2 separate regions of the Homo sapiens genome follow, and region 1 is linked to region 2. The links come from fine-mapping of genetic effects on gene expression. A gene starts in region 2. The other region holds a variant in brackets. All regions are shown on one strand. Distances are between the middles of the regions.

Region 1 (14,615 bases), 110 kb after region 2:
TATGCAGAAGTTTTTTGGTTTGATGTAGTCCTATTTATCTATTTTCAGGTTTGTTCCCTGTGCTTTTAGAGTCATATCCAATAAATTATTACCAATGCCAATGTCAAGAAAATTTCCCCTATAGTTTCTTTTAGGAGTTTTACAGTTTCATGTCTAACATTTAAGTCTTCAATTCATTTAATTTTTGTGTACAGCGTAAAGTAGTGTTCTAACTTCATTTTCATTTTCTCTTTTTTTGGCATGTGGATATCCAATTTTCCCAGCACATTTGTTTGAAGAGACTATATTTCCTCTCTGTCTCATTGCATATTCTTGGTACCTTCGTCAAAGATCAATTGACCACATATACATATGTTTACTTCTGGGCTCTCTATTTTGTTCCATTGGTCTATACGCCTGTCTTTATGACAGTATTTTTTAGAGTCAGACTCATGGAATTTATTTTTTAAGAGTCAGACTCATAGAAGCAGAGAGTACCATAGTAGTTGCCAGAGTTTAGGTGTGAGAGAAATGAGGAATTGTTGTTCAATGGGTATAAAGTTTCACTTTTGCTAGACAATTAAGTTCTGGAGATCTGCTGTACAACATAGTATTACAGTTAACAACATGGTATTGTAGAATTCAGAATTTGTTAGAGGGCAGATCTCACCTTAAGTGTTCTTACCACAAAGACAAAACAAAGCAGAAACAAAAATAAAACAAAGCGGAAACAAAAACAAAACAAAGCAGAAACAAAAACAAAAGAACACCAGGAACTTTTTTAGGTGTTGACTGTGTTGACTTGATTGTGGTGATAGTATCACAGGTGTTTGCCTACGTCCAAACTCATCAAATTTTACATATTAAACATGTGCAGTTCTTTGTACGTCAATTATACATCAATAAAGCTGCTTTTTAAGAAAGGAAACCACTGAGTTGAAATGGTCAGCTTCTGTCTTAAGAAGCTAGACAAAGAGCAAATTAAACTCAAAGTAATTAGAAGGAAGTAAAAAAGAACAAAATTTATTTAAATAGAAAATGGGAAAATAATGAATAAACAAAAGCAAAAGTTAGCTCTTCTTGAATATTTAATAAAATTGAGAAATCTCTTCGCTAGACTGATCAAGCAGAGAGAAAACACAAGCGAGCAACATCAGAAATGAAAGGGGACATTACTCTTCATCCTAAAATGAGAGACTTGACCTAGCTAGCCTCTGACGTCCCTTCCAGCTTAGCTCAACCTTCTCCCAGGGCTCCCTGCAACTCTATTTCCACTCGTGCTGAACTCACCAGGAAGGAATCCCCCAGTGGCTTCACCAGCTCTGCAGAAGCCACTCACTAGGCTTGTGATAAAGGGCGCCAGGGAAGGAGCCTCTAGGATGACTGTGACTTGGGATCCTCTGCAGGAAGAGCAGCCTCAGATTGCTGACCCCCTCTCTGGTTGGTAAACTAGGACCCATTGGTAGTAAGAAGGTTTGGGATGGGGAGCATCGGAGAAGGGCCGTGGAACTACAGACAGAGCTGAGAGCCCTGCACCATAAGGAAGTAGCTTCCTCCATGCCTCAGACCCCCCAGTGAGCAGGTTCCAGAACAGTCCTGGACGCCCAGGCTGCTCCCTAGCTGCTCTTTTGCCCACCTACCCCATTCCTGCAGCCTTGAGCTCCTCCAGCCTATAGTAGGGCACTTCCATCTGCTAATGGATAAAGTCCTCTGGGACACCTAGCAGGAAACACTAGAAGCTCAGGATGACACAGGCTGTGGTGGCAAATCCCTGGCTGTAACGGCACTCAATGAAAGGCAATCTCTACCCCTGGGGCCCCAAATGCCTCTCATTTCCAATTCCCCAGGGTCAGCTGGTTCCCACAGCAAGCCTCCTCTGAGAGCTCCAGTCGGGAACTGCTTGTCTAGACCCAGCTCAGGTCTAGATGCCCAAGGTCAAGACTTCAGTAGCCAGGTTCAGTCTGGGAAATAAGATGAGAAACCCAGGATAGTGACCCTGGTGACATGTAGGCCCCCTCTGTAGCCAGGATATGGGACCCCAAGGGAGACTTGAGAAGGCAGCCTGCCTGCAACAGCTCTCACTCAGAGGAAGACACAGATCAGGAGCAGGGGCAATGAGGAGGCACCAAAGCCTGGATCAACAGCGGGCTTCTACTAAGTGTGAACCCTGCAGGTGCATCTGGGGAGCCTCTTGTCAGTGTGGTGAGGACAGAGAAGGGGGTTTGTATGAAGTGTGTAGCCTTGTAGCTGTTGATCATAGCAAGTGATCCAAAAATGTATGGCTGAGGATGGGCTGGCAGTCCCTTAAGCCTGTACTTCCCACCTGTTTCCATGTGAAGGCACTCCTGGAAAGTGAAGGCATCGATGTGGTACACTGGGGTAAACATACAAGTCTGCAGGTGGTTGGAGAATGACAGCAAGGCTCCTGTCTTCGGTTTGTGCTGCTCTAATAGAACACTGTAGCCTGGGTGATTTATACAGAACAGAAATGTATTTCTCAAGGTGTCAGTGGGTTGCGTGGTGAGGGCTGCTGTCTGCTTCCCATGTGGCATCCTATGGCTTTATCCTCCAGAAGGAAGAACACTGTGTCCTCACTTGGCAGATGGGTCAGAAAGGGCAAACTTGCCTCCTGAATCCCTTCTGTAAGATCACTAATCCCCATTCATGAGGGTGGAGGCCTCATGGTCTAATCACCTCTCAAAGTCCCCATCTGTTAATACTGTTGCACTGGGAACTAACTTTCAACATGAATTTTGGAGGGGACATCATGTTTCAAATCACAGCAGATTCTAACAGCCCAGGCCCTTCCAGCCACCTTGGGGGCTGAGGAGCTTGGCATCTCCCATTCAGGAATATGAGAGTACAGCTCTGGGCTTCAGGCCCCTCCTACCCTGACTCTGGCTCTACTCCAAGCCCAGCTCTTAACAAAGATACCTACTCCCTGGGTGGTGGCAGCAGCAGTCACACAGGATGGGAGCTTGAATCTCCCGATCTCAGCAAGGCAGGGATCTATGAAGGCATCCAGGCTCTACCCTCTGGGTGGCTCCACACCGAGTGCTTTTCCCTCAGCTCTTTGAGGCCAGCCAGCACCACCAGGAGCCCCTGGCACAGCTCACAAAAGAAAAAGCAAAGGCCAGGCATGCACACGGGGAAACACAAAAGTAGACACCTCCCCCCAGGCCAGCAGATGAGGGAGGGAGATGAGGCAGATCCATGGGCAAAGATGAGGAGCCAGTCCTGTGAAATGTCCCAGAAGGCCGGGTCCTACCCCTGGCCTAGGTGAGGGTTAAGACCAGAGGACTGGTCACTCTGGCCACCACCACCCCAACCCCCACCAGTGTGGCAGCAATAAGGCCAGGTCTGAGCCAAGCTGCTCTGAATACACCTGGCAGAAAGTGGGGAGTAATGAGGACTGAGTCACTTAGGAACAGCCAAGAGGCCACTCCTGGGCAGCTTAGCGCAATCAGCACCCTGTGTGAAATAATAACCACTTCTACTGAGGACTCCCAGTGTGCCGGCCACTGTGCTTACCACGCTCCACATCTTATTTCAGTTCACCTTCACGGCAACCCGTGAGCAGGTCCCTGAGAGACTTAGGGAGCCCTGGCAGCTCTCAGGTTACAAAGCTCCTTATCCTTGCACATGTCAGGTCCAATTAGTCCACCCTCTGATTCAGCTGGTGAAGAGGAAGAGTGGATGTCAGCACAGATTGATGGTGCATTTGGGGATTGAAAAATACCTGAGTAATCGGCTAGGTGCAGTGGCTCACGCCTGTAATCCCAGCACTTTGGGGGGCCAAGGTGGCCGGATCACCTGAGGTCAGGAGTTCAAGACCAGCCTGGCCAACATGGTGAAACCCCGTCTCTACTAAAAATACAAAAATTAGCAGGGTGTGGTGGCATGTGCGTGTAATCCTGGCTACTTGGGAGACTGAGGCAGGAGAAATCACTTGAACCCAGGGGGGCAGAGCTTGCAGTGAGCGGAGATCGCACCACTGCACTCCAGCCTGGGTAACAGAGTGAGACTCCGTCTCAAAAAAAGAAAAAAAATACATGAGTAATCAAAAAACTCAAATATTAATAGAATAAAATGTATAAAACAATTCATGCCTAAAATTTCTTCATTGTTTCAGATGTAGAATAGTTAATTTAACTTAAATCATTTCTTAAAAAGACAAATTCAGAAAATTTACTGTGTAATTGAAAATAATTTTTTTAAAATGTTGAGGGTGATCTTAGCCTGTTCTCTGTCTTTCATCTTGAAACACAACTTTTCCTTTGTAACATTTTACTCATCCCCATCTTAGTTAGTTTGTGTTGCTATGAAAGGATACCTGAAGTTGGGTAATTTATAAAGAAAACAGGTTCATTTGGCTCATGGCTCTTCAAGGCAGGCTGTTCAAAGAGCATGGTGCCAGCATCTGCGTCTGCTTCTGGTGAGGGCCTCAGACGGCTTCCACTCGTGGCAGAGGGCAAGGGGAGCCTTTGTGTGCAGAGATCACAGAGTGAGAGAGAAAGCAAGAGATGGGGGAGGTGCCAGGCTCTTTTTAACAACCAGCTCTTGGAGGAACTAATAGAGTGGGAACTCACCCAGCCCCCAAGAAAGAGGGCAATAACCTATTCTTGAGGGATCTGGTCCCATAACCGAACACTTCCCATTAGGACCCATCTTCAACACTGGGGATTAAATTTCAATATGAGGTTTGGAGGACCCCCTATACCAAGCCCGTCATATTAATAATAGAAAAGATAAAAACATAGGTTAATAAATTAATAACCCATGATTCAAAGCAAGAAAGAGAACTCTTCATGAGTCAGAAACGCAGAGGCAGCCCTGAATGAAGGAGGTAAACGGGCAGCCCAATGGAACACACTGGCACGCTACCCGGCCCTCCATGCCAAGGCTGCTACTGTTACCCAGGGGCTGCAGCATCCCTTCAAGGCTGTGTGAGTCCCCCAGCAGCATAGCTTCAGCCTCCCCAGCCCCAAGTCCCACACTGCCACCTGCAGGCCAGCCATCATTACCACGGCATGGCCAAGGACACGCAGCCAGGAGCCATCACAGCCCAGGGCATGCAAGGAACTCTCTCAGAGATGAGGTTACAACCAACAGTCACCAAATACATAAAGAAGGCAGCATCCATGAAAGAGAGGCAACAAAGAACCTACCCCCAAGGAATCCAGTCACAGAACAATCAGAAAAACGTGTTAAAATACATACGCTAACATCATCACAGTGAAAGGAGTGAAGCCTATTCAGGAAATGAAAACACGTAGTTTTGGAAAAGATCCGCTTAGAGAACTTAAAATGAAAAATGTGATAGTCAAGTTAAACAGAAACCCCAAAAGATGAATCCAGGAGCGGACTGGACACAGAAGATTGTGTTCATGATCTGGAAAATCATGCTAAGAAAATCCCCCGGAATACAGCACAATGAAAAGATAGAATGCATAAGAGGAAAGTTTAGGGATACACAGCGTTGATTCAGATATTCCTACATCCAGTTAATATGAATTCCAGAAAGGGAGGATGAACAGCAGTTGTGATAAAATTGACAGGTAATTTCTTAGAGCTTCAAAAAGACATACATCCAGAAGTTGAAAGAGCTCACTGATAATTTTTTACCTTTACACTTTAGAAAAATCAAAATTAAACTTTTTGATTTTATTATTTTTTTTTGAGACAGAGTTTTGCTCTGTCACCCAGGCTGGAGTGCAGTGATGCAATCGTGGCTCACTGCAGCCTCGAACTCCTTCTGGGCTCAAGCAGTTCTCTTGCCTCAGCCTCCCAAATAGCTGGAACTAAGGTGTGCACCATCATGCTTAGCTAATTTTTTATAGAGATGAAGTCTTGCTTTGTTGACCAGGTTTGTCTTTAACTCCTGGCTTCAAGTGATCCTCCTGCCTGGCTTCCCAAAGTGTTGGGATTACAGATGCGAGCCATAGAGCCTGGCCAAAGTTAAACTTTAAAAATCAAAGACAGGCCGGGTATGGTGACTCACACCTGTAATCCTATCACTTTGTAAGGCCGAGGTCAGAGGATTGTTTGAGCCCAGGAGTTGGACACCAGCCTGAGCAACATAGGGAGACCCCGTCTCTACAAAATTAAAAATAAAAATAAAAATAGCCAGGAATGGTGGCACATGCCTGTGGGCCCAGCTTCTTGGGAGGCTGAGGTGGGAGGATCGCTTGAGCTTAGGAGGTTGAGGCTGCAGTGAGCCATCATCTGCCACTGTACTCCAGCCTGGGTGACAGAGTGAGACCTCATTTCAGAAAACAATAAATAAATAAAATAAAAGACAAAGTCCTAAAAGTTACAGACAAATGACCTGCAATGGGGACTCCAGCTGCCATCAGATTGCATATCAGCAATATCAAATGCAAGAAGGCATTAACATCTGAGCATATGCAAGCATGAACCAAGAATTCTATACTCTTCCAGGCTATTACTCATAAGTCAGGGCAAGAAAAGAGAATTCTAGACATATAAGCAGTCAGAATATTTACCATCCACACACCCTTCATTAAATATTCAATTTTGCACTCCACTAAAAAGAAAAGCAAACGCAAAAGAAAGAAAGGAGTTACAAGAAGCAATGACAAGCAACTAAATCAAGAAACTATATTGTAAAGTGGAAATAAAAATTTCTATTTTGCAGTTTTTAATACACTGGAAATAAGATTCCAGGTGATTAGTAGAATGTTTGGGTGGTTGGGGAGCGGCACATAGGGCAGGAAACAGGAAGCTACAAGCATGCCAGGATGCTTGTCTTGTTTGGGGAGAGACAATAGAGACTGGTGGACTTTTTAATGGGACTTTAAAAAAATAAAAGTTTAGGCTGGGTGTGGTGGCTCATGCCTGTAATCCCAGCACTTTGGGAGGCAGAGGTGGGTGCATCACTTGAGGTCAGGAGTTCAAGACCAGCCTGGCCAACATGGTGAAACCTGTCTCTATTAAAAATACGAAAATTAGCCAGGCATGGTGGTACACACCTGTAGTCCCAGCTACTCGGGAGGCTGAGGCAGAAGAATCGCTTGAATGCGGGAGGCAGAGGTTGCAGTGAGGAAAGATCATGCCACTGCATTCCAGCCTGGGCGACAGAGTGAGACTGTCTCTGAATGAATGCATGAATGAATGAATGTTTAAGTAAGAAGACTTTTTTTTTTTCGGAGACAGAGTCTCGCTCTGTCACCCAGGCTGGAGTGCAGTGGCGCGATCTCAGCTCACCGCAAGATCTGTCTCCATGGTTCACGCCATTCTCCTGGCTCAGCCTCCTGAGTAGCTGGGACTACAGGCGCCCACGACCACGCCTGGCTAATTTTTTGTATTTTTAGTAGAGACGGGGTTTCAGTGTGTTAGCCAGGGTGGTCTCGATCTCCTGACCTCGTGATCCACCCGCCTCGGCCTCCCAAAGTGCTGGGATTACAGGCGTGAGCCACCGCACCTGGCCGTAAGAAGACTTTTAATGAAGCTAAATTTGGAAATAAACCAAATTTCCATCAGCAGGGGAATGGATAAACATTGTGGGATATCTACATACATCCTAGTGAGTTATACTAAGGAAAGAACTACAGACACAGCAACAGGGATGACTCGCAAACGCAAAACGTGTTGAGTGAGAGAAGCTGGACACAATGAGTCAAAAAGTCAACGAATTGTAAGTCAAAAAAATTTTAAGTGGTTCAAGGTAATAATTTTTCGACTATACCATTCCATTTGTATGAAACTCTGGAAAAGACAAATCCATTGTGGGAGAAAGCCGATCAGTAGTCACCTGGGGCCAGGAGTGGGGAAACTGACTGGGACGGAACGCAAGATAACATTTTGGGTGATGGAAATGTTCCATATCGTGACTGTGGTGGTAGTTACACATGTATATAAATCAGAATTCATTGAACTGTGCACTTACTCTCTTGTACACTTACTGTACACTTAGAATGTGTGCTATTGCATATAAATGATACGTCAATGAAATTGACAAGAGGAACCACCAGAATGGTGGAAATAGGATGCATAACATTCAAACCAGCAGAGGGGAAAAGAAAAAAATCAAACCAGAAAGCAGGAAGGCGGGGGAGAAAGACGAAGCATGGCAAACAGAAAACAAGTGTGTCTCAAGCCCCAGGACTTGCTTTGAAACCCAGCGATGGTAAAATAAATGGAGAGGTTGGGGTGGGGAGTGAAAGGAGACCTGGGGCATGGCACAGTGTTTCCTGGTACCCAAGATGGAACTGAAAATCTATAGGCCCTTAGAGGACTTAAGGTGCCTCCAGGAAATTCTGGCAGTGTTCAGGGACCCGAAGAGAGGACAGGAGGACAAGGACAGCAGAAGCGCTGAGGCCAGAGGGAGGAAGGAAAAGCAAGAAGGGGCTTCAACGGTACCAACCCGAACTAGACGATGCACAAGCAAGGGCCACCTGGACCCTCCTGTGGAAGCCTCAGCCACCATGGTCCAGAGGAGCCCAGTGGGGGTGGTGGGATGACAAAGATGCCCCGCAGTAGACCAAGCAGAGCCAGGGCAGGCATCAGGCATTTAAAGCTCCCCAGGTGAATTCAAGGTGCAACCCAGGTGAGATCCATCACTCTGGGGTCAAAGGATAAAGAGCCACGAGGACTTGTGAATGCCAGCAAATCAGCCAGAGCCTCTCTCAAGAGCACCTGCCTGCCTCTCCCCACCCGGGTGGCCCCCCTTCTGGGTAGCTCCCCATCCCTTCTCTTCCTTACTCATATTTTCCTCCCCTTTGTCTTTTCCTCTTTCTCCAACTTCGCCTCCTTTTACCACTTACTTTGCCAAAGCTCGCCACCTAGTGTTGGTAGACTTTTAAAACAGTGGCCTTTATTACATATTTATCCAGATGGTCCCCAACTGAATGGTTTGACTTACAGTTTTTTGACTTTCCAATGGGTTGAGATGTAACCTCATTGTAAGTCGAAAAGCAACTGTACATCTTTTTCAAAACCAAGACCTAAATCTTACTAAAGTAACTGGCTTTTTAACATAGTGAGTCATTCACCGCTTAATATTTCCTGTGCCTCAGCTTTCCTAATAGGAAAAAAAAATCAGTCCCCAGCCCTGACCTCTAGTGGTTAACAGCCTCCCTGACTCCCAGGACAGCCCCCTACAGACCCCTGTCCTTCATGGAGAAAATTCCAGGACTCCTTGCCCCGTTTGTTGGGTGTCCCTGTGGAGTTTTACAGGACAGAGGTGCTAGGGAAAGATAGATTCCTGCAGGGTATGCAGTGTGCCCTGCTTTTCTCCTCTGCAAGAATGGTTTCATCTGAAATGAAGGAAATTTCATTTAAAGCCTCAGCTGATTACCACCACCAACTGAGCAATGTTAGCTGCATGGCCTGGGCTCAGAGAAGGCGGGGGTTACCCATGCCCACCAGCCACCTGCCAGTACCTGAGGCCCTTCTCCCAGTGCTGCACCATCCAAGGAATGGAAAGGATACTTGCTCTTCGATTTTCTGCAGGAGATTCTTGTGAATGCCGAGCTGCATCGAAGGAACCAGGGGGCCTGATATTTGAACCAGCCTCTGTCCTCATACTCAGTTGAGGCTGTGCTCCCAGGGCTGCTAG[G/A]TCACACAACTCCAAGAGACAAATTCACACCATCAGTTCATGTGAACAGGATCCCCTGAAGTTGTGCAGTGCACAACCTGTGCAGCCCTATGTGACAGGCTTGTGGCCCCCTTTTTCTCTCATGAGGGGCTCTGACAAGCTGATGAATGATGCCCCTGCTCCTGTGTTTCTACCCAGCTTCAAGGGAAACCATGCTTGTTCTTCTGGACAAATCCCTCCAACTCTGTCACCTTCAGGACCTTGAAGCTTATTTCCAGCCATCTCAGACAAGAGTTGGAAATGAGGTAAGGACTCAGATACCTCCTCACTGAGGAGCGACCCTGGCTGAGCAGTGGATGAAATGTGTACTCAGACACAGGTATGCAGTGTAAGAGCAGCTAGGGGACTGCCCAGCTCAAGTGGCCAAAGTGCAGCCCTGAGAAGCTGGAGCTGCTTGCTTTTATTCAGTGCAGGCACAATGCCAAAAGCCTGGAGCAAACACTGGAGGTAATTAACATTTATTGTTCCCCTTTCAGGGAAGGTCATGGGCGTAGATGATCAAAGGTCAGTTCCTGGTCAACAGAAGTAAACAAGCCTGTTTAAGATAAATTCCCCCACACTCCCTCGTACCTACTCCTTGCCCTCTGCCTCAGGGTTATAGAACAGCTGTCTTTAGCTATTCTCCTCCAAAGCTATGCAGAGCCTTCCAACCTTTCAGAAGGCCTGCTCCTTTCCCTATAGCTTCTCCCACCACTCTGACCAATCTCCTACACTTGTGGCCCCCTTTTTCTTCCCTTGCCTCATGAGGAGCTCTGACAAGTTGATGAATGATGTCCCTGCTCCTGTGTTTCTACCCAGCTTCAAGGGAAACCATGCTTGCTCTTCTAGACAAATCCCTCCAACTCTGTCACCTTCAGGACCCTGAAGCTTATTTCCAGCCATCTCAGATAAGGGTTGGGAATGAGGTAAAGACTCAGATCTCTCCTGAGGAGCAGACATTAAACTGGCTGGGTTACCTTCGGCCCCTCCCCTGGCTTCTTGCTCTGCGTGGCTCCCAGATTCAGTCTTGTTGGAGCCTCCCCATCCCTGGCTGAGATCCTCCCTGTACTTCTGGCCAATATCTGGGCCACAGCACTAGCCCAGCCTCCTGCCCCCTGCCCCCTGCCCTTGATCTTGTCCCAGTCTCCTCCCAAACCTTATCTGAGCACAAGTGGCATTGCCTACACTTCTGTGTGAGAAGGTCCCCGCCCACTCTGCACAAGCCCACGTTTGCCTCCTTCACAAGCCTTGCTGGCCTGCGGGGACAGACGCTGGCCTCTGCAACCCTGGGGCTGCTGATCACATAGCTGAAGCAGAGACCTTATTGTAAGCAACTTTTCATGTGTGTGTGTATGCCTTTTTCTTGGGAGAGGGTCTGTGGTTTATATCAGCTCTTCAAAAAGTCCACATGGGTTAGGAATCATGAAAGCATTGCATGCTTTTTTGTGGTTGGTGGGTGACGATCCATTTCTTAGAATGTAGGTTCCCATTCATTTATCAAATATTTACTGAGCACCTACCATGTATCAACTGCTGCTCTAGGCACTGAGGATACAGCAGTGAACAAAACAGATGGTAGAATGACTTTCTAGGAGCCAGAGACAGCCTGAGGCTCTAATGGGCACTGAAGAAACACCACAGATTCTAAGTTGTGAACGCTGTGCAGTTCTGAGCTGTGAACCCTATGAAGGTTTTACTAACAAGTTATTGATGACGGCAGGCACAGCAGTGTTGATGACAATGGCCACAGCAGGAGCCAGATAAACTCCCAGATAAACCTCTCACTGCTGAACCAAGGGGAGGGGCCGTGGCCTGTGACAGGCAGCCATGGTGAGGAGGCAGAGGAGAACTGAGGTGTCCCCACCCCATGCCAGCCCAAATAACTGGCTCCCCCAGCCCTCGCAACTCATGCCAGCTGGAGGGCTGCAGATCCCAGGCCAGGCCAAGACACAGGCTGGGCTCCAGTCACCCTTCCCCAACCTGGAAACCAGAACTAGTCTTCTTTCCAGACTCAGGACAGGTAAGGCTTCCCAGCACAGGTGTTCCTGACAGCGTGTCTGTGTGAGAGAGCATGGAGCAGGGGGTGCAGCCAAGAGGGAGCCCCTGGGACAGGGGGCAGAAGGAACAAGGTCTCAAGTGCTGCTGCAGGCTCCTAGGCAGCTCAGCACTGGAGGCATATGCTGCAGAGGCCGTGGCCAGATGGAGAGGGCCTGGCCAGAACGGGATCTCCTCTTCACGAATCTGAGGGCTGCCCACACTAGAGAGGTTCTAGGTATTTGGAGAGTCCCTGGCGGGTCAGGGGAAATGGAGAAGAGGGAGAGTGAGAAACAAAACTTGCCAAGACCCATTGGATGCATCTGGGAAAGAGGCAAGAGCCCAGGCGAGGCTCCCTCTGCACTGCCCATGCCTTGGAGTAACCCACCTCCAGGAACTTGCACACCCTCCTGCCCCACATACAGGTGCACACCTCTCCCCCGATGAACTGATGCCCCTACTAGACACACCCATTTAGCTCCTAGGAATGGTGAGACTATATTTGCATGATGTGGCCACTACACACATCACCAGAGACTGTGGTCCAGGTTCGAAGAGTGAAGCCTGGGTAACTGGCAGGGAGACACGCGCACATCTCCCACCTGGAGCAGCCAGAATGGGACATCACCCCACAGGCTTTAGGGCGCTGGGAAGAGAAGGGTGATCTGGGAGGAGGCACGAGGAGACCAGAAGGCAGAAGGAGGGTTAGGATGATGGAGTCAGCAACATAGGCTGGCCATCCCCTCAGCCCCTCATTGTTCTTGATAGCAGTGCATCCAGGAGCTCGAGGTGGGGTTGGGGCTTGGGCCGCTCTGCAGGAAGTGTGGATGGATGCATCTCTGCTTTCCATCTCAGTGTAAGGAGGACAGCTGGCTTCTCAGTGCCCTCAGCCCCTGTTCTGTGTGGGTCTGAGGACTTGGGCCCTCTGAGGTCCTTCTGTGTCTGGGGTGGGCTCTGTGGCTCACCTGATTCTCTCCACACCCCGCTGTGAAATGAGTGCTGTTCTCTTCTGCCCTACATCCCCAAGAGTCCCTGGAGCGATCTACTGCCCATCTTCTCCAAAAACACACAAGGAGAGCCCTGCCCCAGTCCAAGCTGCAATTCTGCAAGAGCTTTCCGGGGCCTGGGGCACCTCGAGGCAGGTCCTGGAGAGAAGGGAAGCAGATCCTGCACAGAGTCCCCATCGCTCCTCCCTCTACAAGCCCTGACCATGAGCAGTGTGTCTCCTCTCTGTCACAGTCCTCCGCTTCCTGCCTTGGTCAGGCCCCTGCCCTCTCCCGAGCCTGGTGCCGGTCCAGAGCCAGCTGGAGGGCGCACTTCAAGGTCTCCACGTTGTTCAGGACGTTGTATCGACTGAGGGCCACCAGCCGATAAAAGTCCTGGGGCTCATAGGTGAAGTTCATCATGCCATAGGGGGTGTCTGGCCTGTTGATGACAAAGTCCCCAAAGGCCTTCTCCTCAGCTGTTTGTCGCTCCACACCTGTGGGTGGGGGAAGCAGAGGAGAGGCCAGGATGGAGCCCTCTGTGGAACTGGCTGGAACAGCCCAGAAGTCTTCCTTGTGCAGGACACCTGGCTGGCTCCCTGCGGGCCCTGCTTGGGCCACATCTCAGCTCTCAGACCCCCCAGGAGGGGCTGGCCCCATCTGAACGCTGAGACCCAGGGAGCAGAGGGCCACAGGGGCCAGCTCAGGCCCACCAGGAGGCGTGCTTAGTGACATTCTCCAGGGAACCCACCCTCAGAACAGCGTCCCATCACCATCCCAGGGCTCTGTGGGTCAGTCCCAGGCCTGGAGCTTCCCTTACCTGGGGCCAGGTGTGTGCGGAAGGTACGGTTAACCAGGGGGAAGTGCAGCACAATGGGGGAGCGGGGGTCCTCAGCCTTGGCAAACAGATAGCACTCACGGGCCTCCTCCATGTCCTCAGGGCCCACCTCGATGCTAGGGAAGGGGATTCCTCGGTCCAGGCAGTACTTCTCTGTCATCTTCAAGACCTGAGCAGGAGCAAGCCTCTGACTCTGCCTTTCCTCCACCCTGGCCACTCCCGCCGCCCTGGACTCACACACGCCCAGGCTTCAATGCCAGCTCTGTTTCTGACTAGCTGAGTGACTTCAGGCAGGTGACAGCTCCTTTCTGAGCTGGTTTCTCATGTGTAAAATAAAAAATTTTTAAACTTCCGGCCGGGCATGGTGGCTCATGCCTGTAATCCCAGCACTTTGGGAGGCCGAGGCTGGCAGATCATGAGGTCAAGAGATCAAGACCACCCTGGCCAACATGGTGAAACCCCGTCTCTACTAAAATTACAAAAATTAGCTGGGCATGGTGGTGTGTGCCTATAGTCCCAGCTACTCGGGAGGCTGAGGCAGGAGAATCATTTGAACCTAGGAGGCAGAGGTTGCAGCGAGCCAAGATTGCACCACTGCACTCCAGCCTGGTGACAGAGTGAGACTCCATCTAAAAAAAAAAAAAAAAAAAAAAAAAAAAAGCTCCCCATCCAGTGGTGTTGTGAAGATTAACAATAATCAGTAATGATCAACAATCAATCATCCACTGCCTCAACAGCATTCCGCCATGGTCCTCCAGGAACCACCATGGTCTTCCCTTCTCTCACCCCTCTCTGCTCCCTATTAGAAGCTGATGTCAGTTTCACAAGGTTGACATGCGACAATCACAGAAGGTCCACGTCAGAAGAGGCTTCATCAATCCCCAGTCAATCCCAGGCTCTCACTGGACCCAGGACAAAGAGGAGACCAAAGGAAGGGCTGCTCCAGCAGCACCACCAGCACCCACATGGGAATGGGGGCATCCGTCCACCACCCAGCAGAGATGGAGGGACTTGCTGCAGGGCTTCTGCATCAGAGGGGACCCTCATGGCTCTGTTGTTACCATGGTAACAAAGGGGCCACAGACTCAGGTCCAAGCTGGAGTGGGGAAATCTGTCATGAATGGGCAGAGTCTAGAACTGGGGGATCTTCTATGGATGAGGCTAGAAGATTCCTGGGGACCCT
Region 2 (15,675 bases):
CAAGGGAGTCCTGAGGTGTTCTCCCTCTCCTTTCTTCACTGAATAGCTGCTTATTGGCACTCTCCTCCTACTGTCCCACATGCAGATATTTGCTCTTGCCCAGGCAAGATGGCAGCCTGCTTGGGAGGCAGGCACAGTGTGGCTGCGGGAAGGGGGGTGACAGACACTGATCACGCACGGTGACATCTACTCACTGGGAGACCATGTGCCAGGGGCTCACCCCCACTGGTACTTACTTAGCTCCAGCCCAGGCCTTTGCATCTCCCTTGCCCTTTGGGCCTCTTCCCCAGGGTATCTCCCCCAGGTCCTTCTGGTCACTCTATTTTCCCTTCCCAGGAAACAGTCTGCCTCTCTCCACTCCACTGTTTCTCGCAAGAGGTCCTTGTGGAGTCTTGGCTGGTCTGCGATGACCTCTCTTTCCTGATGGCAAAAGCTCAAGTAGTCCTTGGTTTGATGACTGGCTCCTGTCAGATGCCTCTGCGGGTCATGATAACCCCAGGGGACCAGAGCCCTGAGGTGTCCCCCTTCCCTAGCACCTTGTCCTAACAACTGGGGTGTGGGAACACTCCCAGCCCTGCTCACGCGGTGCTGATGGCTCCTCCTTCCGTCCTGCCCCTCTTCTAGTTCTGATCACCTCCTGGGGGCTCTGCCATCATCTCAAGCCCAGGTCCTCAAGGAACACCCAGAGCCCTCCCTGGGCTGCAGTGTCTGGGGCAGTGGCTGTGGTTCCTTAAGGCCCCACGTCCCTCCCGAGCTGCCCCTGCACTCTGAGTCTCGCAGCAGCCACTACTCTACTTTATCCCTTTTGGACCCATTACTTCATTACTTTCTGCCTCCCAGAGGCCCTGAAACCCCCTCTTCCAGCCGCACCAGCTTCTCTGGACCCTACAGCAACAGAGTGTCGCCGGATCATCCTTCCTGCCTACCGAGGGACCGCAGCGCTCTCCCAGTGCCCCTCTGCCTGTTGCCCTTGGCCCCAGGCGTTAAGCCTGTGGGAGCCGCTCCCGTTTCACCCCTCTCCTGGCCAGCGTCTCTTCCATGGGCTGTTTTCAGAGCTCAGGGTCTGTGTGCTCGCTGGTAGGGCTCCCTGCCTCTGTTGCTCTGAGAGTGCCAGCCCTCTGATTGTTCCTCTGAATGAATGAACCATCTTCTAGAGTATTATTTTTGAGCACCTACTGTGTGCCAGGCCCTATGCTAGATGCTGGGGGGCCAGGGGTGAATACTAGGCAGAGACAGAGGTTAAAGGCAACAGCGGCCAGTGGCTTTGATGGGGAGAGCAGGTCAAGCTGGCTACAGGCTGTTGCTTTCCAGGCTTGGGGCCTCTGGCTGGCTCCAGAAGCTTCCCCGCCATCAGTCATGCTCCTGGACTCTGGAAACCTCTTCTGGTCCCTAGGGGCCCAAGGCTGCAGAGGTGAGGCGCGTTTCTACTCTGAGCCGGCACACCCGGGAAGGGGCAGCCTCGCACGGGTTCTCTTCAGGTGTCCTGGTTCTGTTCTTGGTTCATGCCTTTCCTGTTGGAACTCATGACTTGAAGCCCCTTCGCTGAGAGTTTTACCCACGCTTAGAAGAGTTTTTGTTGTCGTCCATTCCCAGCCTGAGCTCACGGTAAATGCCTACCAACCGAATGTCTGTATTTATAGAAGCGTCTGAACCGGCACCCTCGACATGCGACCCTGAATGTTCTACTCCGTGTTGCCAGAATCACTTTATACCTTTTTAAGAGGATTCAATTCTTCTCTCTTTAAATACTATTGGGATTGGGGGCAGGAGAAACAAGATACGAAGAAAAAAAAAGTTTCTATAATCCCACCACTCAGAGACCATCTTTTTATCTTTACTTTTTTTTTTTTTTTTTTTTTTGAGACAGGGTCTCACTCTGTTGCCTTGGCTAGGGAATCTTTTGATGCTGGTCCTTTCAGACTTTCCTGGGGCTTAATTCTTTTTTCTTTGGAGACGGAGCCTCACTCTGTCATATAGGCTGGAATGCAGTGGCGGGATATCTTGGCTCACTGCAACCTCTGCCTCCCAGGTTCAAGCAATTCTCCCTCCTCAGTCTCCTGAGTAGCTGGACTACAGGTGCTCACGACCACGCCCGGCTAATTTTTGTATTTTTAGTAGAGACGCAGTTTCACCGTGTTGGCCAGGCTGGTCTCAAACTCCTGGTCTCAGGTGATTCTGCCTACCTCAGCCTCCCAAAGTGCTGGGTTTATAGGTTTGAGCCACTGTGCCTGGCCCCTGGGGCTTAATTCTGATCAGCAACAGAATGCTGATTCTGGGAAGGTCACGTTATTTAGCCCCTTTTAAGGTCTCTTCTCCTCTCCTGAACAGCTGCCTTAAAACCAGGACAAAAGTCAAACTCACAGCCAATTATAGGTCTGGAGATTTATTTTGTGAGATCAACCCTGAAATATTGAACATCTCATGGTCAATAACTTGCTCTAACAGCATTCTGTTGGGAGCCGGAGACTTGGGCCAAAAGCCATGCACACTGCTTCTCTTCTGATGCTGGAGACACAGCTGTGGCCTCTGGCCAGACCTCCAAGGTGCACTCCTCCTTTCTCACTCTGCCCGAGTGCAGCATGCACCCTGGGCTGGCCTGGTGAGGAGGCAGGGTCAACTTTCACCAGGCAAGCAGTTTTGGCAAAACCTGTACCCACCGGCCCACTTTCTCAGAGGGCAACTAGAGTCCAAGCTGTGGAGGCTTCAGCCCAGGCAGGAGTCCGTCCTGAGGGATATTCCACAGTGTTTCAGGGCTCTGAACCCAGGTCCGGTGGTCCTCTCGGCCTCACAATCCTTCTCCTGCCTCCAGGAGGGGGTGCCTGTGGCCCAGCCTGCCTCCTTCAATATCTACTCTGGCAGGGAAGGCGCAGCCACACTCTCCCTTGGGACCTCACTCCAGGTGTCCTGCCTTCCAGGACAAGTTCACTCCCATCATCTAACCTCAGTGCCTTCCAATGCAGGTGACCATTTCTTCCCGCTCTAACTCAGCAACAATAACAGCTAGCATCTGCTGCGTGCCAGCCATGCGCAGGTGCCATGTACAGGTTCTCTGTATATTATCTTGCTTAATCCTTACAACCGCCCCACGAAGCAGTTATTATTAGCTTCGTCTTTATAGATGGAGAGTCAGAGGCTAAGTCCTTTGACACAGGGCTCACAGCTAGAATCAGAGACATCCAATGCTACTTCCCAAGCCTGTGTTTCTCCCACTGAGAATCTCAGTTTACTTGGCAAACAGGAAGACAAATGTTGCTTGCCTTCATCTCCTCTTCCTTGCTTTTCTTCTCTTTAAAACAGTTTTTCTGACAGATTCTTCTTTTCACTCAGCGCTCCCCCAAAGCCAAAAAATAACCACCAAACTCTGACAATTCTTCTATGGCCTGCACTCTTACTGGCTGTTTCTACCAACACATTCTAGGATATCCCTCTCTTTTTAAACATCTAGAGCACATCAGAGCCATAAGGGTCTTTGGAGAAGTTCCCATTTTCCAGTAGCCACAGATTGCTCCACTTGAGCCTTAGATCACACCCTCCAGCTCTCGAATTTTCAGGAGAGACCCAGTTTTCAGGAGACAACCACATTTTGCCAGCACAGAATTGGGACTGGGAAGGGGGTTTGAGAGACATCCCAGCCGGATCATGCTGGGAGGAAGGTGGCAGGAATATGGGACTTAGCTCTGGGGACCAGATGCATTCCAGGAACCAGGTCTATGAGAAATGGCCTTCTTGGGTTGCAATGAATGTACCTATTTTGCTTCTGATATAATCTGTTTGATCAGTGTTGCTAGAGATGAGCAAAAATTCATGGCCTGGAGGTAATTAATCTACAGTGGAAAGATGCAATCGAGCAAAGCACCGTGTCTCTGATGTGCGTGTGGGAACCAGAAACCAGGGAGGCTGTGGAACCCAAGTTTACAGGGTTGCTTATGGTGTGGTGAGGGCCAAAGCTTTAAGGACTCAGATAAGCTCATCCCTAGAACAGGATGCCCTGGCTGGGATTGGGTATCAGGGTGAAGAGTCAAACTATTTAAGAACAGACATGATCAGGCACCATGCCAGCTGGGCTGCAGCCCTGGAGTAGGGACAGGCATTCATCCTTCATGAGGGCATTGGGAGGGCCCTGGGGTAAGGACCAGGGAGCACTTGAAGACTTGGAGCTCAAGGCAGGAACTGTTTGGCAAACAGTACAGAGGTATATTTAGCCACTTTGCCAATCAGTACAGCTGGGCCAGGGAGGACAGGCTGGACAGCAGTTTTCTGGGAAGCCAGGGGAGAGAGAGGGCCCCACTGCTCAGGCTGCCGACACACCGTCCCAGCCCCCTCCCCAGCCTGGATTCTGGGGTTGATCTTGGCAGGACTCCACTGCCCCCTGGGGACCTACTGGGGACTGGGGGACCTTGCCAGCTCATGTGGAAAAGAGGCAGCCCCTTGAATCTCAGGATTGGCTATGATGCAATCCAATGCTGCCCCTTCCCACTCCTACTTTTATAGATATGACTTTTGGCAGGGGTGAGGGTGGGGAACAAAATGTATGACTCTGCTCTGGCAGGCCCAGCTGGGCTGTGCTCTAGCTGCTGTGCATATGCTCTTATCTAACCTTCCAACCACCGCCAAGGAAGGCATCATTATCCCTGCTTTACAGAGGGGAAGGCCGCGTTTAGAGAGATTACATCTCAAACAGGCTTACACTGCCCAGGAGTGGCAGAGCCAGGACTTGGGTGCAGGTCTTCAGGGCGCATGCACTCCATCCACCTGGCTCTCACTATGAATGTACAGCACCAGCTAGCAGCTTGCTCCAGGCCATGTGCTGGACTAGTCAGTAGCAGAGACAGGAGGAAAAGCCTCAGCCTCCTCATTGGAGCTCTCCCTATACCCCAAGAATCTAGCCGTTACCACAAATCAGTCAAAAGAATACTTAATTACCAAAGGGCTCCCAGGGTCAGGCTCCTGGGTGGGAGTGGGGTCTGGGGAAGGGTCTGACAACCACATTTCAGAGGTGGTGGATCCGATGCCCATCGCTGGGCCAGACATACCCTCAGCAAACCATCCCATGAAGTCTGGGGAGCCTGGAGAGAGGGGAAGATGGCACCTGGGGAGCCTGCAGGAACTCCCTCCCCAGGGCTTCTCAGGTCAGGCCAGGCAGGTGATGCCACCTCCTCCTCCCTAGAGAGCTGGGTGTACCCTTCAGTTCCATGCAACACCTGTGTCAGAGCTTGGACTAGCCAGGTGCTGTCTTCCAGAACATGTGGGCCCTCCTTTAAGGAGACCATTGGGAGGGGACATGATGGGACCCTAATACATGTCCCAGCCACTCTGAGCAACATCCCAGACTAAGAGTCACCTGGGAGGAGCTACCATGGCTGTTTTCCTTTTTATCACCAGGCTAGTTGAGTGGTCAGGGCAAGAAATCCCGGCACCAACATGGACCCTCCAGGCCTGACAGGGGCAGATGCAGCTCATGGAGAGGCTCCTGAAGCCACATTTGGGGTCCCGGGCTCTTAACTGCTTCACTGCCCCCTTTGAGGTAAACTCTGTCACCTCTGTGGAAGACCTCTCCTGGCCCAAGCTCTTGGAGGCTCAAAAAGATTGGCAGGAACAATAGGTGGCCAGACGCCCTTCCAGCCACCCAAGTGCTGTGGGGAAACCAGGGCACACCCCAGGAGGCAGTGTCTACCTGGCTGGGCAGCAGGGGCATTGGCCACCACCCACCACGGAGCTCCCTGACTTGGGCTCCTAGGAGACTGAACAGGGTCTTCATCTCCCCCACCAAGGGGCAAAGTACTTTCAGGGCATCACCCATGTCATTCAATGATTTAACTTGAGCCGGGGAGGTGGCCCTGGGAAAGGTAATGAGGAAGAAGTGCTGCCTTCGAGGAACCAACTAATGATTCTTCCCAAGGTGAGCCTACAGCAGATTGAAGCATTGAGGTCATCTCCCTATTGCCTAGATGGGGAAACTGAGGCAGAGTTGGTCTAGAGCCCTGGCAACCTGATCCATGAACCCAGAGGTCTCCCTGTGAGGCTGTGAGGAGTTGGATGGACCCATGAGCCTTGACTGTAAACCCAGGTGGGCAGCTTTGTGGCTGATGGCAACAGATTGACAATGCCACCAATTCTCACCATACACTACACCATACTCTTGCACAGCATAGAAGCTTAGGATGTTTGCAGGGTTAAATCCTGCTTGCCATTAGGGCAGGCCAAATGTGGATCCCCCTGGCATACTCTCTATCTTGGGTGCTAGCCTGGCCCCAGGATGGCCCCACGCCACTTCATGATGCCTTGAAAATCTTGAGGGTACTCTCAGCAGGGCCACCCAAGCAGGAGCCCTGGCCCCAACTGGGATAAACCACCTCCCCCAGGTTTTAAGATGAGGCTGCCTGAGCCCAGGTCCTTGGGATGTCCAATGCCTACCAGCCCTCCCTGAGGCCCGTCTCCTGCTCTCAGCTCCCTGCCCCTGCCCCTCACTTCCTGGCCATGCCTCCCTGGCCCTCAGCCTCTGGCCCCAGCCACTGAGCACCCCTCCCTCACCTTCAAGGCACAGGTGGCCGAGGGCCTGCTGTCTTCTGCTTGGCATGGGTCTGGCAGGGAGTGGGAGACCCTGGCGTGCATCTGCCTCAGGAGCATCACGGCAGCTCTCCAGCTGGGTGGCAAGATCAGGAACTTATACTCTGACTCAGAGCTCCACCTTCCTGGCCACAGCTTGGCAGTAGCTGGGATTGCTCTGGGAGTGGTTTGAGTGGGTAGACAGATAGGGTGCATGGGCCTAGATCTCTTCATATCAAAGAAATCACAGGTCTTCAGGTCATAGAAATACAGGGACCCGCAGGGCTCTGGTCTTTGGGGTCAGCAGTCTGTAGCCCCCAGCCACTCAGAATGACCAGGCCTTCAAGGGCACAGTGGGTGGCAAGAAGAGGACACTGGACCCACATGACTGTAGGACTAGCCCGCCATAATTTGGGAAAGCTCTATCTCTTCAGCTTATAGAGGTCATGGCTCATAGATGCCCCTCTAGGAGGATGCGACCGTCGCTCCCAACTCCACTTCAGTTTCATGGCTTGGTACCCCAGGAGCTGTGGCCAGGGACCTTCATGGGGTCCCTGGCCACAACTCCCAAAGAGACCAGGGTCAGTGCTCCCAAAGCTAGAGGGTGAAGAAAGAAAATAATTGCCCAATACTTCGTGAGAAAGGGTCTGGGGCAACCATCCCCTGTCCTCCCTCCTGGGAGGCCAGGTGGAGAGAGGGCGTGTCCAGCCCCTGCCTGGTCTCAGGACAGCTTGGAGGATGCACCCGCCCCGCCCAGATGATTCCTATCTCTAGCCTGGTGGCTCACTGAGGGGCCTGACAAGGGCAGCTTTGCCTGTTCTGCTGCCTGACTCTGTACACTGGGAGTTTCCTGCCTGAGCTATTGCCTGGGGCCCCACAACCGGCTTTTCTGGACCATAGATAGAAGTGCTTTTTTGAAATTGAGGATGAGATCTGAACATGGGACAGACTGGGCCTGAATGCAGGGATGGAACCTGGTTGGAGGTACCTGTGGGAACTCTTCACGTGCCTGGCCTTCCAGAAAGTGGAGGGGCCTTAGCCTGCTGCTCTCCTGGCTTCCTTCCTTGCCCTGCCCTCCCCTCCTCTGCCAAGGATGGGGACTCAGCACCACATCCCTCAGTAAACTCCACAAATTCAATTTAGTTCATGTACCTAGTAAGCATCTGCTGTATACATCCTACTGAGAGAGGAAATCCTAAGCTTGAAGTTGCTGACAGTCTGGCTGGAGAGCCAGATGCATCCAACCCCTCAGAGGCTCAGGGATCCAAGTTTCCCTGTGGTGAGAGGGGGCATCTTAGAAGGATCGATAACAATCCTTCCTTCACATTTGTGAAGATCCATGGTTTACAGCAGTAGTCCCCATCCTTTTTTAGTGCCAGGGACTGGTTTCACCGAGGTTAATTTTTCCGCGGGTGGGCGGGAGATGGTTTTGGGATGATACAAGTGCCTTACATTTATTGTGCACTTTATTTCTATTATTATCATATTGTCATATATAATGAAATAATTATACAATTCACCATAATGTAGAATCAGTGGGAACCCTGAGCTTGTTTTCCTGCAACTAGATGGTTCCATCTGGGGGTTATGGGAGAGAGTGACAGATCATCAGGCATTAGATTTTCATAAGGAATGTGCAACCTAGATCCCTCGAGTATACAGTTAACAATAGGGTTTGTGCTCCTATGAGAATCTAATGCCACTGCTGATCTGACAGGAGGTGGGTTTCAGGTGGTAATACAAGTGATGGGGAGTGGCTCTAAATACAGATGAAGCTTCACTCACTCGCCCACTGTTCACCACCTGCTGTGTGGCCTGGTTCCAAACAGGCCACGGACTGGTACTGGTCTGTGGCCAGGGGGTTGGGGGCCCCTGGTTTACAGAGCTCTGCCACACAACTAAGAACTGGCTAGGGAACACAGAAGATGGAAAATGGATTCCAGCTGGAGAGGGAAAGAATGGATCTGAAAAGGCCTTACAGAGGAGGTGGCATCTGAATTGGGCTTTAGACGAGGAATGGGATTTCAACAGCTAGTGAGCCTAGGCACCACTAGGAGGAAGAGAGAGGCATCCTAGGAGGAAGAAACAGCATGAACACAGGCAGGGAGGCCAGAAAGCAGGGCACGCTTATGTATGCAGGTGGTCTGGTGTCTGTGCAGTGAGTTGTGTGGGAAGAGATACTGGGGGTAGAGAGTGGAACACAGGGGTGGTAGAAATTGGGCAGAAAGAAGGAGGCTTTGTGAAAGAACAAATCTGGAAAACACCCAGGTAAGGCCCCTCTGCTCTCTGGAGGGCCAGGCACATGAAGAGGTCCCACAGATACCACCAACTTGGTTCTGGCCCTGCATTTGGACCCAGTCTGCCCTGTGTTCAGAGGTCACCCTTCATTCCATACTAGATTAGGGTCCAAATAATCATGACCCTAAAAGGCCATACTTTATATTTGGACGTAGTCTCTAAGCAGTAGGGGGCTATTGATGGTTTTTGAGCAGGAGAGCTGAACTTTAAGAAGGCAAGGATGATTGATGTTGAAACAAGGGATCAATTAGGAGGTGAGATGTGAACCATCTGGGATAGGGGAAGTAGGGTGGAAAGTTAAGGGAGAGATAAGGCCAGAACAGGCCATACAAGCTAAGTCCAGGAGTTTCTGTGGCAACTCAACCCACAGCACTATACTGTCCTGAAAGTCATGGGGTCCCATCTGTCTCCCCATCCCTCCCACTCCCCCACCCTTCCCAATCAGATAGGCCAGGTTGAGCCCCAAACACCAGGGCATTCCTCAAGGCCTCCTATTTGGCCTCTTCTCACTGAAGAAGCCCAGCCACAAACCCCCACTCCAACTCGTATGTTTCCTCACTGTCTATCAACTCCTCAGAGCAGGGTCTCAACTCATTTTAGTTGAATTAAATCAAATTGAATAGGGGGCTGATGGGAGCTTGGTGGAAGTTTCTTCCCCCACATCCTCTGTGGTGCCTCTGTCCCAGGTGGGAGCCAGTGTGACCTTGAACTAAGTGGACTGATCTACTGGAAAGTATTTACCGACTGCCTGCTGGGTGCCCATCTCTGTGCTGACCACTCAGGTGGGGTCTGGAATAAAACAACCAAGAATGTAAAATCTAGAAAGGGGAGGAAAGGGGGTAAAATTAAATGGTAAATTGGCCAGTGTGGGCTCTAAGTGGGATGGGAGGGGAGCAGAGCAGAGGACTCGGGGAGTTGGAAGTGGACTGGGACAGTGAGTAAGGAGTGTCAGGCAAACAGTGACATCCCCACGCCAGGGTGCGGGTGCCAAAGCAGCAATCTTGGTACACAACTGCTGCTCCAAGTCAAGTGCTCTTTTGGTAGAGTTCCTTCTGTGTGGAAATTCTGAACTTGTCTCTGCAGCAAGGGGAGGGAACAGTTCCTTTCCACCCAGCACTGATGACCAGGGAGCCCCAGGATCCTCAGATCCCCTGGGCTACTTGGGCCCAGCCTTGCTGCTGTGTGCGCTGAGGCCTCCGACTCCAGGCCTGTCGCCAGGCTTGTTACCTGACACTTCAGATGGGGTGACCAGGCACTGCCTCTGCCAGCAGACTCTTGGCCTCAGGTAACCCAATATTGAAAAGCACATTCCTCCCAGAAGCCCAGTGGATGCCACTCCCCTGTGGGCCCAGCAAGGATGACTCCTCACTGTCCGCTTTCCAGGTGGTTCAGGGCCCTGTCCCTTCCTTCCCACCTCCTGCCAGCAGCACCTGTCTCCAGCCTCCTCTCTGCCTCCTACAGCTTGTGAGCTTTAGAAACACTCCCTTCAACCTCTCGTTCTTCTGCTGAAAAGCACCTAACGCTTTTCCAGTCTTTGCCAACAAACTCTGGATTCCAATACCTTCCATAAACCAGGTAGGACCCAGGAGCAGCTCTACGTATATACGGAATTTTAGCATACAATAAAGGAAGTATGTGAAATCAGTCGTGAAACTGTAAGAATTAAAGAGGAGCCAGGCGCGGTGGCTCACGCCTGTAATCCCAGCACTTTGGGAGGCTGAGGTGGGTGGATCACGAGGTCAGGAGATCGAGACCATCCTGGCTAACACAGTGAAACCCCATCTCCACTACACAAAAAATTAGCCGGGCATGGTCGCGGGCACCTGTAGTCCCAGCTACTCAGGAGGCTGAGGCAGGAGAATGGCATGAATCCGGGAGGCGGAGCTTGCAGTGAGCCAAGATTGCACCACTGCACTCCAGCCTGGGAGACAGAGTGAAACTCTGTCTCAAAAAAGAAAAAAAAAAAAAGGAAAAGAAAAGAAAAGAAAGAAAGAGGAAAGAAACATGAAAGGTGACTCGCCAGTAAGACAGGTTTACTTAAGGGAAAACAAACCTGAGAGGGGCTTCTGGCCAAGTTAGGTCAGAGGCATACTCTCTTACAGACTAAGAGTTTTTAAGGATTCAGAGTGGGAGAGTTTATCAGAGGCTTGGACTGCTTCTGTGTCTCTTTGTTGTGCTTATCTGGGAGGGAGAGTTGTGTGTCTGTTCCCATACATCTTCCTGTAGCTGCAGGCATACCTCCCCCCACCCCCCACTGGAGTCTGCTTTTAGCTTCCCTATCTTAGTGCACCTGAAGGGAAAGGAATGTGCTTATTAAGGCCCAATGTTTTACTGGGACCCATTGTATGCAGGCGAAGTTTGGCAGTTCCAAGAGACGTTCCCCCTACCTCCCTCTGTACCCAAGCTATCTTATCTGTGTTTTACTGCCTGCTCTTTCTGGCTGCTTGTAGTTAGAAGAGAAGTGATTTCCTTGAAATGCATGAGGCTAGAAAGGGAGCTGGAACTTAGAGTGGTGGTGTTTGTCTGAGATGACGGTGCTCCTGCTCTGTCAGAAAGGATGGACCATTCATTATTGGAAAAGCTAGCTTACCATTTGGAATAAAATGAAATTAACTTCACAAAATAAATTCCAGATAGCTTAAATATCTAACCATTAAAATAAAACTATATATAATTTAAAATGAAATGTGAGAGTACATTTATATAATGTTAGGTGGAGGAGGATCTTCCTAAACAAGGTATAAAACCTAGAAGCAAATAGGGAAATATTGTCAGTTTTGAATACACAGAAATTTTAAACTTCGGTAAAGCAAAAGATGCCATAAGCAGAGTTCCACCTCTACAATAGATCTCACGTTTCCCCTCTTAATAAATATTCATGCATAACAAAATCACTTTAAAAAAAAAGATATAGAGGAGAGTCTTGCCCTACCAGGTACTAAGATAAATTACAAAGCCATACTAATACAAACAGTATATTATGGGAACAAAATGGAGGGAACAGAGACAGACCCCTGCTTTTCAAGGGAACTTAATATATGATAAAATTGGCACCACAAGTCAATGGGAAAAGAATAAACTGTTTAATGGGTGACATGGCAAAAGTGACTTACTATATAGAGTAAAAGAAAACAGCATTCCCATTTCATACCATATAAAAAGGCAGGCTGTAAAAAATTAACACAGGGAAAAGCCAGGAAATGCAAATTCATCAGAAATGCAAATAAAAATGAAAATGAGATTTTACTACAGCTACTAAATTGGAAAAAATTGAGAAAGTTGGATAATGGCAAGTGTTGGTGGGAATATGGGAATAGAGTCACCATCGTGCTCTGCTGTGGAAGAGGAGGCTATCAGGTCAGTGAGGACACTCTGTCGTCACTTAGTCAAAGTAAGAATATCAGACAGCAATTCTGATTTGGATATAGAAAGATATGTATGAGGGTCGGGTGTGGTAGCTCATGCCTGTAATTCCAGTACTGTGAGAGGCCGAGGTGGGAGGATCATTTGAGGTCAGGAGTTCGAGACCAGCCTGGCCAACATGGTGAAACTCCATCTCTACTAAAAATACAAAAATTAGCTGGGCGTGGTGGTGGGTGCCTAGAATCCCAGCTACTCAGGAGGCTGAGGTAAAAGAACCGCTTGAACCCAGGAGACAGAGATTGCAGTGAGCTGAGATCACACCACTGCCCTCCAACCTGGGCGACAGAGCAAGACTCTATCTCAAAAAAAAAAAAAGAAAGAAAGAAAGATGTGTATGAGGGCATTCACTCCACATCACTTACAGTATGAGAAATGTGGAACCAGCCCATGTGAGAGCATGGCTGGAAGCATGAATGGGGAGTGAAGGATGTGCAACCTGCTGCAGTCATTCAAAGCAACACACGAGACGCACGCAGAACAACATGATGGGTCTGGGACAATCAGTGTTGACAGGAAGAGGCAGGAAACACTGGTAAATCTATCAAGGACATCTACAACAACTTCAATATGGCTAGGGAATATATTCAAATAAAATATGCATTGAACACAGTAAAATGATTGCCTTTCTGCTGGGAGGGGATGGGGAAAGTTTTGTGGGTATAGGGAAACAGCAATCAATCAAGAAAGCTGGAAGGGGCCCCCCAGGGACCAGTGAGGATATTGGGCCATGTCTTGGAGTCCTCTGCACCTCAGGTGAGATATTTTTTTCCCTCCAGCTTTTTCCCAGATGTTGCTGCCACTGCTCTTGTCTAAGCCATTATCTCCACTTAACTCCTATATTGCCTAACGGATCTCCCTGCTTCTACTTTTGCCTTCCTATAAGCCACTCTCTACAGAAGAGCAAAAGTGATCTCCTGAAAACATAAGCGAGATTACGTGACTGGCCGGATTCAAGCCTGCCCCTCACTTCTGGCGGCTGACTTCAGACCTTCTCTGAAGGTCTGTGTGGTCGGGCTGCTCACGTTTGTCCTACTTTTCCCTTCACACCCAAGCTCCAGCTACACTGGTCCTTCATGCCCAGGCTCCTTCCCATGTTGGGAATTTGGCCTGAAGTCCTTGACCGCACTCTGTTTATAGCTGCTCTATCTCATCCATCACAGCCCTGCTCAAATGCCATTTTCTGTGGCAGCCCTCCTGGGCCACCCTCCACCTCTCATCTACCTACTTGCTTCTGTGTTGCTCTATTAACATAATTCATCATATGCTCACTAATCTTGTTTTCTTATTCTTTTTGCCTTTTTCCACCAGACTGTAACCCTTTTCAGGACATGGACATTGCCTGTCTTGTTCATCAGCTGGAAATACCTAATGCCCATCAGTAAAGGAATGGCTAAATTAGTTACGACACATTCACACACGTTACACAGATGTCAACAGGAGCAAAGTGGCTCTCATTTATTGAATGTTTACAAAGTAGCAGGGACTGGTCTAAGTATTTTATATTGCCTGCCAAGCAGATACTATTATTATCTCATTTTAAAGAAGCAGAATTGAAACACAGAGAGGATAAGAACCTTGCTCAAGGTCACGATGGTAAGTGACAGAGCTGTGACACTAGCTAGTTTGGATTTAACCACTATGATCCCAGGTAGAAAGCTGCTGACCTGGAAAACTGAGATTCTGTACTGCGTTTTTATTTTATTTATTTATTTACTTATTTATTTATTTATTTATTTATTTATTTATTATTTTTTGAGACGGAGTCTCACTCTGTTGCCCAGGCTGGAGTGCAGTGGTGTAATCTCGGCTCACTGCAACCTCCACCTCCTGGCTTCAAGCAATTTTCCTGCCTCAGCCTTCTGAGTAGCTGGGATTACAGGAGTGAGCCACCACACTGGGCTAATTTTTGTATTTTTTGTAGAGAAGGAGTTTCACCATGTGGGCCAGGCTGGTGTCAAACTCCTGACCTCAGGTGATCTGCCCACCTCGGCCTCCCAAAGTGCTGGGATTATAGGCATGAGCCACCGTGCCCAGCCTGTACTCTCTTTTTAAAAGGCTTCTTCTATGTGCCTATGTTTCTTGATAAATAAAATCCAATTTCCTAAAACAAATGTACAATGAAGAATATAATTTTCATGACATAAAGTAAAACAAGCCTTACAGCTTCTCTGGGTAAGATGAGATTAAAAAATCAACCATGGAAGTTAATATGTTGAGATGTCCCAGAACTTCTGGCCAGCAAACTAGATGTGACTCTATTTCATGATGACAAGATAACAAAGTATAAACATTACAAGAAAGGACCTTCACTCCAATGTAGGTAATGTTTGTATTCTTAGTGTCATCAATGTATCTGGCTCATGAATATTTTCTGCCCTGCCTTATCTTTACAAAATATTAAGGGCCAGCTTAGTGCTTTTCTTTTCTTTTCTTTTCTTTTTGAGACAGTCTCGCTCTGTTGCCCAGACTGGAGTGCAGTGGCGCGATCTCAGCTCATTGCAACCTCTGCTTCCCAAGCTCAAGCGTGATTCTCCCATGTTAGCCTCCCGAGTAACTGGGATTACAGGCACACATCACCACGCCTAGCTAATTTTTGTATTTTTTTTGTAGAGACAGGGTTTTGCCATGTTGCCCAGGCCAGTCTCAAACACCTGGGCTCAAGCAATCTGCCCACCTCAGCGTCCCAAAGTACTGGGATTACAAGCATGAGCTACTGTGCCTGGCCCTTTTCATTCTCAAAGCACTTGTATCCACAGCTCAATATTTCTCTTCCTGCCATTAAAACTTGTGGCCTCTGGTTTCAGCTAGATGCCAGGCTTTATTTCCCTGCTCTGTACTCTCTTGCTCATACAGTGAGGTGCCAAAAGCCTTCTGCACACTGAGTTTACTCCTTATCACCCATCACTTTGGTAAGGATGACATCGTCATTGTCTCAAGACTGAGTATGGTATAGCGGTCTAGACTTTAATAGACCTGGGTTTGTACCTTCATTCTGTTACATATAAACTACATGGACTTGGGTAAGTTTATCCCTCTAAGCCTGAGCTTCTCCATCTGTAAAGTGGGAAGCATAACAGTTTCTACCTCATGGGATGGTTGTCCAGAATAAATGAGGTAAAGGACTTAGCACATGACGGGCACGTGGCTGATTCACTATAAGTGATCCACAGTACAGTAACATCAGGGATACAAAGACATCATCGCTGCCCCAAGGACCTCCCAATTTAAGTTGGATGAGGCAGGAAGGTTACACAGATAGTTTCAGGACAATCACGTCATATATGAGAAGAGAGGTAAAAATAAGCTGCTCAGAGAGCTTGGCCACTCAGGGCTGGGGAGATCAGAAGAGGGCCTGGAGGAGGAAGAATTTGAACTTGCCCTTGAAGAAGGAAGGATATGGGCCTGACA

Evidence for each region. PIP is the estimated chance that this variant, and not a neighbour inherited with it, causes the effect. A credible set is the group of variants that fine-mapping cannot tell apart.
Region 1: its variant is the best candidate, but not a certain one, in a credible set for the expression of PLA2G4E in nasal epithelium (TOPMed, PIP 0.88).

What each region holds. Positions count from the first base shown.
Region 1 is chr15:42,129,114-42,143,728 of GRCh38, forward strand. It overlaps PLA2G4F (phospholipase A2 group IVF), which reads right to left. Exons shown (of 20, transcript NM_213600.4): 19 at 13,415-13,601; 20 at 9,921-13,091. The coding sequence ends at 12,871. Among named protein-coding and RNA genes, the nearest start is that of PLA2G4F, 20 kb to the right of the region's middle. The variant G/A (reference allele first, on the strand shown) is at 9,560.
Region 2 is chr15:42,014,404-42,030,078 of GRCh38, forward strand. PLA2G4E (phospholipase A2 group IVE) reads right to left here and starts at 6,639. Exons shown (of 20, transcript NM_001395548.1): 1 at 6,532-6,639. The coding sequence starts at 6,627.